Homo sapiens: one gene and its partners. The protein of the gene in region 1 purifies or fractionates together with the protein of each later gene. This does not show direct contact. Each region holds a gene or a part of one and is shown in the gene's direction. Other genes may lie near its edges. The genes, in order: MFSD8, CNIH4 and TMEM106B.

The links.
Region 2: the proteins of MFSD8 (region 1) and CNIH4 purify together in Homo sapiens (affinity purification with mass spectrometry; one large-scale study listed by BioGRID and IntAct). This does not show direct contact.
Region 3: the proteins of MFSD8 (region 1) and TMEM106B purify together in Homo sapiens (affinity purification with mass spectrometry; one large-scale study listed by BioGRID and IntAct). This does not show direct contact.

What each region holds. Positions count from the first base shown.
Region 1 is NC_000004.12:127,955,023-127,958,677, reverse strand, and holds part of MFSD8 (major facilitator superfamily domain-containing protein 8), read left to right. Parts: intron 1-1,085; coding exon 1,086-1,177; intron 1,178-3,655. UniProt on the Homo sapiens protein: Outward-rectifying chloride channel involved in endolysosomal chloride homeostasis, membrane fusion and function. Conducts chloride currents up to hundreds of picoamperes.
Region 2 is NC_000001.11:224,359,780-224,363,434, forward strand, and holds part of CNIH4 (protein cornichon homolog 4), read left to right. Parts: intron 1-715; coding exon 716-784; intron 785-3,655. UniProt on the Homo sapiens protein: Involved in G protein-coupled receptors (GPCRs) trafficking from the endoplasmic reticulum to the cell surface; it promotes the exit of GPCRs from the early secretory pathway, likely through interaction with the COPII machinery.
Region 3 is NC_000007.14:12,224,693-12,228,347, forward strand, and holds part of TMEM106B (transmembrane protein 106B), read left to right. Parts: intron 1-3,655. UniProt on the Homo sapiens protein: In neurons, involved in the transport of late endosomes/lysosomes. May be involved in dendrite morphogenesis and maintenance by regulating lysosomal trafficking.

The sequences.
Region 1 (3,655 bases):
GTTCTGGTATTTTTCTCAGGTAAGCTACATTATTTTTATTTTTTTCTTATCTCCTTTGACTCAGAAGAGGTTTGTTTATATGGAATGACATATATAGTGTTAAACACTTTAAATATATTAGGAACTAATATGTTTGGCATATAATACATCTAAAAACATTGTTTCTCTTCTTCCTTTCCTCTTTACCACTCCCAACCATATCACGTTTGAAAAAAAAAAGTTTCTTTTTTGAAGACTAATTTGACAGTTCTAAGGCTTATTTTTAAGAAATTAATCTTGGAACATAAGAAGGCATTTTGTCTGTTCTGCATGTCTTGATTATTTGAAAAGATAATGCTCACGTTAAGGTGAACTTGTTAACTCTTTCTATTGTGTGTGTGAAAATGTAATGAGTATATAGACTCATGTGTCACCTAATGGAGGTAAGATATCTACTTAGTATACATGCCTTTGGTCCAGATCAGACGCTTATCCAAAAGATCACTTAAGTCTGGGGAGTCATGGTCTCTCTTTGGTCTGCTGATAAAATTTATCTGGTAACCCATTTAGGAGGTCCCAGGGCTGAAAATGTCTTAGGTTACGTTAAACCTTCCTGGTATCATTCCTGTTTTCTGAAGTAGGAAGCCAAAAGAGCTTCCTGCAGCAATTTAATTTGCTGTCATCAAGTAGAGCATGTTATAATGATGACAGTTATTATTTTTTAGTACTTAGTAGCTACGGGGGATCTAGTTGTAGCTAGTTTATTTGATTTATCTTGACGTAATTTATTCATTTTTACAAATTGCAACACTCTTGATTAATAAATCTGTGCATGTCAATGGTAGCAAAATAATTGCCTTGCAAAAAGTTTCCTCTTTTAAAACTATACTGTTTCCCAAATTTCTGTATACAATAATGCATATATACAATCCATGGAAATTCAAAAAAATAATGCTTATTCATAGATAAATTAGTGTAGCAGAATCAATATTGGTAAATTCTACCTCTATCACATCATTTTCATAACTAGAGAATAAAACTGTTGACACTTAAGATCCACATGTAATGAGATAAATTTATACTACTTTTTTCTTCTTTACACCTAGAGAATGGGACATTTTAGAGACTGAAGAGCATTATAAGAGCCGATGGAGATCTATTAGGATTTTATATCTTACTATGTTTCTCAGCAGTGTAGGTAAGTATTAGAAATACATAATTTTAACAATTCAGATCAGATGTCATATTTTAACTTCATTTACTTCATTTACTTTCATTGCCTCTGAAATTATCTTTATTGTGCTAAAAAATACGTGACATAAATTTACCGTGTTACCATATCTAAGTTCAATAGCCTTAAGTATATCCACATTGTTGTGCAACCAATCCCTAGAACATTTTCATCTTGCAAAAGAGAAACTCTATACCCATTAAACAACTCCCTATTTTCCCATCCCCCAAGCCCTAGCAAACTTTGTTTCTTGGAATTTGACTATTCTAGATAGCTCATATAAATGGAATTATATAGTATTTTTTTTCTTGTGATGAGATTATTTCACTCAATGTCCTCAAGTTGGTTCATGTTGCACTTGTGATAATTTCCTTTTATTTAAAGGCTGTATAGTTCATTATATGTATTCTAGGGTAGGAGAAATTTTTCCTCTATTCTCCTATGTGCTTAAGGCTTGTGAATTAAGCTGACAAAAGAAAGACTAACAGTTAAAAAAGTATACAAATTTATTTGATGTTAATATTTTTTAATGAAAAGAAACAAATAACATTAAGGAATGTACATACAAACGAAACTAGACAACTACTAAGAGTCCCTAACACTTTCATGTACTCACAAAAGTATTTCATCTTTTTTTTTTTTTTTTTTTGAGACGGAGTTTCACTCTTGTTGCCCAGGCTGGAGTGCAATGGCACGATCTCAGCTCACTGCAACCTCCACCTCCCAGATTCAAGCGATTCGCCTGCCCCAGCCTGCCAAGTATCTGGGATTACAGGCATGTGCCACCACCCCTGGCTAATTTTGTATTTTTAGTAGAGACGGGATGTCTCCATGTTGGTCAGGCTGGTCTCGAACTCCCAACCTCAGGTGATCTGCCCACCTCGGCCTCCCAAAGTGCTGCGATTACAGGCGTGAGTCACCGCCCCCAGTTAAAAATATTTCATCTTTTTTCTTTTTTTTTTTTTTTCAAGACGGAGTTTCGCACTGTCGCCCAGGCTGGAGTGCAGTGGCGCGATCTCGGCTCACTGCAAGCTCCGCCTCCCAGGTTCGCGTGATTCTCCTGCCTCAGCCTCCCGAGTAGCTGGGACTACAGACACCCGCCACCACGCTAATTGTTTTATATTTTTAGTAGAGACGGGGTTTCACTGTGTTAGCCGGGATGTCTTGATCTCCTGACCTCGTGATCTGCCAGACTCAGCCTCCCAAAGTGCTGGAATTACAGGCCTGAGCCACCGCACCTGGCCAAAAGTATTTCATCTTTACAGCCATCAGTCAATTATTTGTTCTGCTACTTCTTGAAGATGTGCAAAATTTCTTTTTAAAAAAATTTTATTATTTATTATTATTTATTCATTTTTTGAGGTGGAGTCGCCCAGGCTGGAGTGCAGTGGTGTGATCTCGGCTTACTGCAACCTCTGCCTCCTGGGTTCGAGCAATTCTTGTGCCTTAGCCTCCCGAGTAGCTGGGACTACAGGCGCACGCTATCACGCCCAGCTAATTTTTTTGTATCTTTAGTAGAGATGGGGTTTCACGGCGTTAGCCAGGATGGTCTCGATCTCGTGACCTCATGATCTGCCCGCCTCAGCCTCCCAAAGTGCTGGGATTACAGGCGTGAGCCACCCCGCCTGGCCAGTGCAAAATTTCTTAAGTTTAAATATACAGTCTTAATTATACCTGTGTCTTAATGTCCCAAGACAGATTGTAGGTAACAGAATCTCAATTGTGCCTCAAAGAATTAACAACAAAACAAAATTCAATCTATTCTCTGCATTCAGGCAGAAAGGGGGAGAGCAGAGAACCCTTCCTGCATCTGCTATTTCTCGGTTGCCTTCAGTTTGAGATAATTAATATGGCAAAACAGCAGATTTTTGGAGTAGCATACTCTGATTGCCTTCAGTATATACCACATTTTTTTTTTTTTTTTTTTTGAGACAAAGTCTCGCTCTGTCGTCCAAGCTGGAGTGCAGTGGTGTGATCTTGGCTCACTGAAACCTCCGCCTGCGGGGTTCAAGCAATTCTCTGCCTCAGCCTCCCAGGTAGCTGGGATTACAGTCACCCACCACCATGCCCGGCTAATTTTTGTATTTTTAGTAGAGATGGGGTTTCACCATCTTGGCCAGGCTGGTCTTGAACTCCTGACCTCGTGATCCACCGGCCTCAGCCTCCCAAAGTGCTAGGATTACAGCCTAGCCTGGCCTACCACATTTTGTTTAGCCATTTATCTGTCGATGGACATTTGGGTTGCTTCCACCTCTTGGCTGTTGTGAATAGTGCTGCTGTCAATATGGGTGTGCAAATATCTCTTCAAGATCCTGCTTTTAGTCCTTTTGGGTATATATCCAGAAGTGAAATTGCTGGATCATATTATGATTTTCTTTTTAATTTTTTAATTTTTTGGAAAATTGCCATACTGTTTTCCATAGCAGCCGTACCATTTTATTTACA
Region 2 (3,655 bases), on another chromosome or scaffold:
TCCTGGGCTCTAGGCATTTTGCTGCCTCACCTTAGCAGTACTGCTACTAATAGCTAGCATTACAGGTGCTCATGCCCGGCTAATGAAAAAAAAAGAAAAAATTTGTAGAGATGGGGGTGAGGTGAGTGAATCACTTGAAGCCAGGAGTTCGAGACCAGCCTGGCTAACATAGTGAAACCCCGTCTCTACTAAAAATACAAAAAATTAGCTGGGTGTGGTGGTGGCGCGCACCTATAGTTCCAGCTACTTGGAAGGCTGAGGCACAAGAATTGCTTGAACCCAGGAGGCAGGGGTAGCAGTGCGTTGGAATTGCGCCACTGCACTACAGCCTGGGTGAAAGAGATGGAGGCTTGCTATGTTGCCTATGCTGATCTTGAACTCCTGCTTCAGGCGATCCTCCTGCCTCAGCTTCCCAAAGTGCTGGGATATTTCCCATTTTTTTTTTTTTAATAGCCATTGTTTTACATTTGAAGAACTCAAACTAAATGTTCTGGTTGGGTCAGATTAGATTTGAGCAAAATAGGATTATTTTGTAAAATAATTTGTTGAAGGAACATGAATGGGAAAATTGAGTTGTCTAATGAGCAAACTTTAGGAAACAACTCATTTTTTTCAAGTCAAATCTAATTCTGCCTTGTAACTGGGATTGCTTTCTGAAACTTAAATACTTAGTTATTATAAAAGAAATATAATAATTCCTTATCTTGATCATCAGATAATTACATTGTCTGATTTAGAATGTGATTACATTAATGCTAGATCATGTTGCTCAAAATTAAACAAGGTAAGACATTTCTTTGCTCATTCTCTGGCATTGAAGCCAGGTCATTTTCCATACTTAAGATTATTATAGATAACAGATGTATTTTTGATTTTAGAGTACATGTTGTCTCTTATTCATTGGAAATTTGATGGAACTGCTGTGTTTTACAATATTTTAGATCATGAAATTATGCTAGAAGATCTGACTTGAAATTTTGTTTCTTTATATGTTGCTTGTCTCTTGTTTACAGCGGATAGCATCTTTACTCAGAGTAGGGAAATGTTCATCATGAGGGTAATTGTTTTTGTCTTCTGCGTTGGAACTCCCTCCTCCCACTCACGGAAAAAAGCTCAAGTCTGTCTTTGGTTGAATGAAAGAAGACCTTTCTTGTGTAGTTTACCGAGAAAATAATTTTTTTTTAATGTATGACTCTTTATTTATTTATTTATTTATTGAGAGAGAAGGTTTCTTGCAGTGGTGATCAGGCTATTCTTGAATTCCTAGGCTCAAGTGATCTGCCTCGGCCTTCTGAGTAGCTGGGACTACAGGCGCATGCCACCATGCCTGGCTAATTTTTTTTTTTTTTTTTTTGAGATGGAGTCTCACTCTGTCACCCAGGCCGGAGTGCAGTGGTGTGATCTGGACTCACTGCAGCCTCTGCCTCCCAGGTTCAAGCGTTTCTCCTGCCTCAGCCTCCCAAGTAGCTGGGATTACAGGCACTGCCACCACACCTGGCTAATTTTTTTTGTATTTTTCATAGAGATGGGGTTTCACCATGTTGGCCAGGCTGGTTTCAAACTCCTGACCTCAAGTGATTCGCCTGCCTCAGCCTCCCAAAGTGTTAGGATTATAGGTGTGAGCCACCGTGCCCAGCCACCTGGCTAATTTTTAAATTTTTTTGTAGACTGGGTCTTGCTATGTGATCTAGACTGGCTTTGAACTCCTGGCCTTAAGCAATCCTGCTGTCTTGGCAAAGTGCTGGGATTACAGGTGTCAGCCACCATGCCTGGCCTAAGCTCCATATTTTAAAAATTTTCATAAATTTTGTTTGATTGTTTGAGGCAGAGTCTCACTCTGTTGCCCAGGCTGGAGTGCAGTGATGCGATCATGGCTCACTGCAGCCTTGACCTCCTAGGCTCAAGCGATCCTTCCACCTCAGCCTCCCATGTAGGTGGGACTACAGGTGTGTGCCACCATACCTGGCTGATTTTTAAAATTTTTTTGTAGAGACAGGGTTTCACTATGTTGCCCAGGCTGGTCTGAAATTCCTAGGCTCAAGTGATCTGCCCTCTTTGGCCTCCCAAAGTGTTAGGATTACAGTTGTGAGCCACTGCGCCCAGCCTCATGTAGCTTCTTGAGATAAGGTAACTGCCAATTAAATTTTGAGGCCTTCCATGTTTGAAAATGTCTTATCTTTACACTTGATTCATAGTTGTCAGAGTACAGGGTTCTAGGCTGGAAAAGATTTTTCTTTCAGAATTTTAAAGACACCCCTTGGTGGTCTTCTGACTTCCAGTGGTTCAAGTTGGGAAGTACCATGCCATTTTTTTTTTTTTGAGACGGAGTCTCACTCTGTTGCCTAAGCTGGAGTGCAGTGGTGCGATCTTGGCTCACTGCAAGCTCTGCCTCCCGGGTTCATGCTATTCTCCTGCCTCAGCCTCCCAAGTAACTGGGACTACAGGCGCCCACCACCACGCCCGGCTAATTTTTTTGTATTTTTTAGTGGAGACGGGGTTTCACCGTGTTAGCCAGGATGGTCTCAATCTCCTGACCTCATGATCTGCCCGCCTCAGCCTCCCAAAGAATTTCTCATCTATTCTATATGATTCTCATTCTCATTCTCTCTCTCTCTCTCTCTTTCTCTCTTTTCCTGTCCTCTATGGGAAAGTTTTAGAATCTTTATCCTTGGTGTTTTGAAATTTTACAGTGCTGTATCGCTGTGTACTTTTTTTTTTTTTTTTTTTTGAGACGGAGTCTTGCTCTGTGGCCCAGACTAGATTGCAGTGGCGTGATCTCAGCTCACTGCAAGCTCTACCTCCCCGGTTCACGCCATTCTCCCGCTTCAGCCTCCCGAGTAGCTGGGACTACAGGCGCCTGCCACCATGCCTGGCTAATTTTGTTTTTGTATTTTTAATAGAGACAGGGTTTCACCATGTTAGCCAGGATGGTCTTGATCTCCTGACCTCGTAATCTGCCCAAAGTGCTGGGATTACAGGCATGAGCCACTGTGCCTGGCCCTCTGTGTACTTTTTAAAAGGCCTTTCTTGTTTGTTTTGGACATCTGATAGGCTCTTTCAATATGGGAAATTTTCTTGTATTCTTTCTTTGATGTTTCTTCCCCATCTTTTTTCCCTCCTTCTCTTCCTACAACATCCACTAACTAGACAATTGATCTGCTGGATTGATCTGCCAATTTTTCCTTTTTCTTAGTTTTATCTCTTTGATTTTTTTTCTGCTGTTTTTATTATTTCCCTTGCTTTTTCTTCTGAATTTTCTTTTTTTCTTTTTTCTTTCTTTTTGAGATGGAGTTTTGCACTTGTTGTCTAGGCTGGAGTGCAGTGGTGCTATCTTGGCTCACTGACACCTCCAACTCCTGGGTTTAAACAATTCTTGTGCCTCAGCCTCCTGAGTAGCTGGGATTACAGGGGTGTGCCACCATGCTGGCTAATTTTTGTATTTTTAATAGAGATGAAGTCTCGCCACGTTGGCCAGGCTGGTCTCCGACTCCTGACATCAGGTGATCTGCTCTCCTCGGCCTCCCAAAGTGCTGGGATTACAGGCATGAGCCACTGCACCCAGCCTTCTTTTGAATTTTCTAACAAATGTAGCATTTATGCTAAAATGATGATTTTTAAGAGGTTTTTATTCTCTTGGTTCATGTTTGACTCCTAG
Region 3 (3,655 bases), on another chromosome or scaffold:
TAGCAAAGTGTTGACATAGTTGATTTGATAGATTTTATAAATGTAACATTTTGATTTCATTGTATTTGGGAAATACAGTTTTTGCCACGTTTAATAGACCATTCCTTTATCAGCTTTAAAGATGAAATACAGGTGACTGGTTTCTCTTTTGTAAATTAGCATATGTGAAAATGCCGTGTTTTTTTTTTTTTAATTATTAAGTTCTAGGGTACATGTGCACAGCATGCAGGTTTGTTACATATGTATACAGGTGCCATGTTGGTGTGCTGCACCCATTAACTCATCATTTACTTTAGGTATTTCTCCTAATGCTATCCCTCCCCCATCCCTCCACCTCACGACAGGCCTCGGTGTGTGATGTTCCCCTCCCTGTATCCAAGTATTCTCATTGTTCAATTCCCACCTATGAGTGAGAACACGTGGTGTTTGGTTTTCTGTCCTTGTGATAGTTTGCTTAGAATGATGGTTTCCAGCTTCATCCACGTCCCTACAAAGGACATGAACTCATCCTTTTTTATGGCTGTATAGTATTCCATGGTGTATATGTGCCACGTTTTCTTAATCCAGTCTATAATTGATGGACATTTCGGTTGTTTCCAAGTCTTTACTATTGTGAATAGTGCTGCAATAAACATAACGTGTTAATGTGTCTTTATAGCAGCATGATTTATAATCCTTTGGGTATATACCCAGTAATGGGATTGCTGGGTCAAATGGTATTTCTAGTTCTAGATCCTTGAAGAATCACCACACTGTCTTCCACAATGGTTGAACTAGTTTACAGTCCCTCCAACAGTGTAAAAGTGTTCCTATTTCTCCACATCCTCTCTACCATCTGTTGTTTCCTGAACTTTTTAATAATCGCCATTCTAATTGGTGTGAGATGATATCTCATTGTGGTTTTGATTTGCATTTTTCTGATGGCCAGTGATGATGAGCATTTTTTCATGTGTCTGTTGGCTGCATAAATGTCTTCTTTTGAGAAGTGTCCGTTCATATCCTTCGCCCACTTTTTGATGGGGTTGTTTGATTTTTTTAAGTTCTTTGTAGATCCTGGATATTAGCCATTTGTCAGATGGGTAGATAGCAAAAATTTTCTCCCATTCTTTAGGTTGCCTGTTCCCTCTGATGATAGTTTCTTTTGCTATGCAGAAGCTTTTTACTTTAATTAGATCACATTTGTCAATTTTGGCTTTTGTTGCCATTGCTTTTGGTGTTTTAGTCATGAAGTCCTTGCCCATGCCTACATCCTGAATGGTATTGCCTAGGTTTTCTTCTAGGGTTTTTATGGTTTTAGGTTTTTTAAATATTAGGTCTAACATTTAAGTCTTTACTCCATCTTGAGTTAATTTTTGTACAAGGTGTAAGGAAGGGATCCAGTTTCAGCTTTCTACTTATGACAAGCCAGTTTTCCCAGGACCATTTATTAAATAGGGAATCCTTTCCCCATTCTTGTTTTTGTCAGGTTTGTCAAAGATCAGATGGTTGTAGATGTGTGGTATTATTTCTGAGGGCTGTGTTCTGTTCCATTGGTCTGTATCTCTGTTTTGGTACCAGTACCATGCTGTTTTGGTTACTGTAGCCTTGTAGTATAGTTTGAAGTGATGCCTCCAGCTTTGTTCTTTTTGCAAACAATGTGTGTTTCTTAGGACATTGTTTTTGAAAGGACCGTGTAGCCTTGCCACTCATGAAAACAAAACAAACAAAAACCTTAGAGAGGTTTTCTACCTGTTTTACATGTTAACGTTTGTTTGAAAAGAGCACGGTTTGCTAACTATTGAATTAGGAAAAGGGATAATATTTATTGGCCAGCCATGAGATATATGTGAGTGACAGTGATCTGCCAGGAAGAGTGATAGTTGTTTTTTCTTGCAGAGGTTAATGGTGTGGTTAAGGTTGAGGTAGAGATGTCTGTGGTGGTGGTTGGAAAGAGGGAGGTTTGTCAGGACAGTGAGTGAAATGGAATGGTATGTTAAAGTGGAATCACTACTTAATTACAGAGAAAAAATGGATCCCGTGGATCCATTTATTCTTATTGCTTTCTGTCAAAAGTTGCCGGTTTAAGGGCTTTTTCTTTAAAAACAACAATATAGGAAAATATACGTATATGTGAATAAAACGTTTGTAACACAATGCTAATTGTAAATTGTTTTATGCAACTGGGGAATTGTTGGGTATTTTCTCACTTAGCCCTTTGGAACAAGGAACATATTTTCTTTTTTATACACTGTTTAAAACATTGGCCAGACTTTTTTTGGCCTACCTCCAAAGACTTTTTTCATGTCAAATAACATAAATATGTACTAATAAATAATAAAAAACCCTGTGATGTTTTCTTTTAAGTACCAGCAAGTATATTTAAATGTGAATATCATACTCTATTTTAAGTAATTATGCAGAAATTCTCACATTTTGGAATACTGCCACTTAAACTGAGACAGACTGAACATTAAATGAAAAATAAGATTATTTGGATGAACATTAACTAGATGACAATGAGATAAGAGGCTGAATTTTCTGTACATTATCTATAAGTATGTTGAAAATGGAACTGCTTTGCTTTCTTAAAATGATTAGTATATATTAGTAGTACTACTTTTTAGTAACATTTGTCTTTCTACTTATGAAAATATTTGTCATTATAAGACATTTGAGAACTATAATGTATAAAGATTTTTACTTCTGCTACCTAGGTCGAACTATTACCATATACATATATTTACGAACAATGCATATACATTTACAAATGTAATCATTCTCATGTGTAAAGGATACACACATTCATTCACATATATACAAATGCACATTTCAACTGAGGTCACAGTACATTTTCCCATGTTAAATGGTCTTGTGTAGTCTTTTACATGATCATATTATAATTAATTCAACCATTTTCTTAATGAATGTTTAATTTTACTATTACAAATATTAGGAAAACATCTTTGTGCTTAAACTTTGTTTCCATTTCAGGTTATTTCTTTAGGATAAATTCCTGAAAGTACATTTGCCAATTAAAGATCATAGGTAGTTTAGGGTCTTTGTTAACAATTATGGTGATCTCTTTTCATCTTTTAAATTAAATGGATTCTCACTACTCTGAGCAACAAATGTCTAACCTTTATTACTAAATTTTTATTTATTCTGTCTTATTTTTTCTTTGTCTTAATTCTCATAAGGATTTGTATTCTCAACCTGTATTACATCATTGATCCCTTAAATATTCTAATGAAACTGTGGACAGTACAGAAAAAGACATGTACCAGCATAATTTTGCATATACAAAGACTTCCAAGATTCTTCTAAATTTCAATCCTTGGTCTTATCAGAAGATCCATTGACCTCAAATTAACTATCTCTTTCCTATCATGTCTAGAAATGAAATTGACATGAACATTAAGAGCCAAATAGATAAAATGTTTATATATTTAAAGATTATTTTTACTGTGTTTGAGAACATTTTTGAAATTTCTTTACATTTGTGACTATACCAATGTAAATGACTCCATAAATGTAATCATATAATTGCTGACTCTAGCATATTCTTTCATCCTTTTTTTTACTAAAACTATTTTCTCTCCTTCAACTCATCCCATATTGCATCTTTTCATATCTTTCTACATATTCCTATTAACATTTATGTATACTCACATATTCA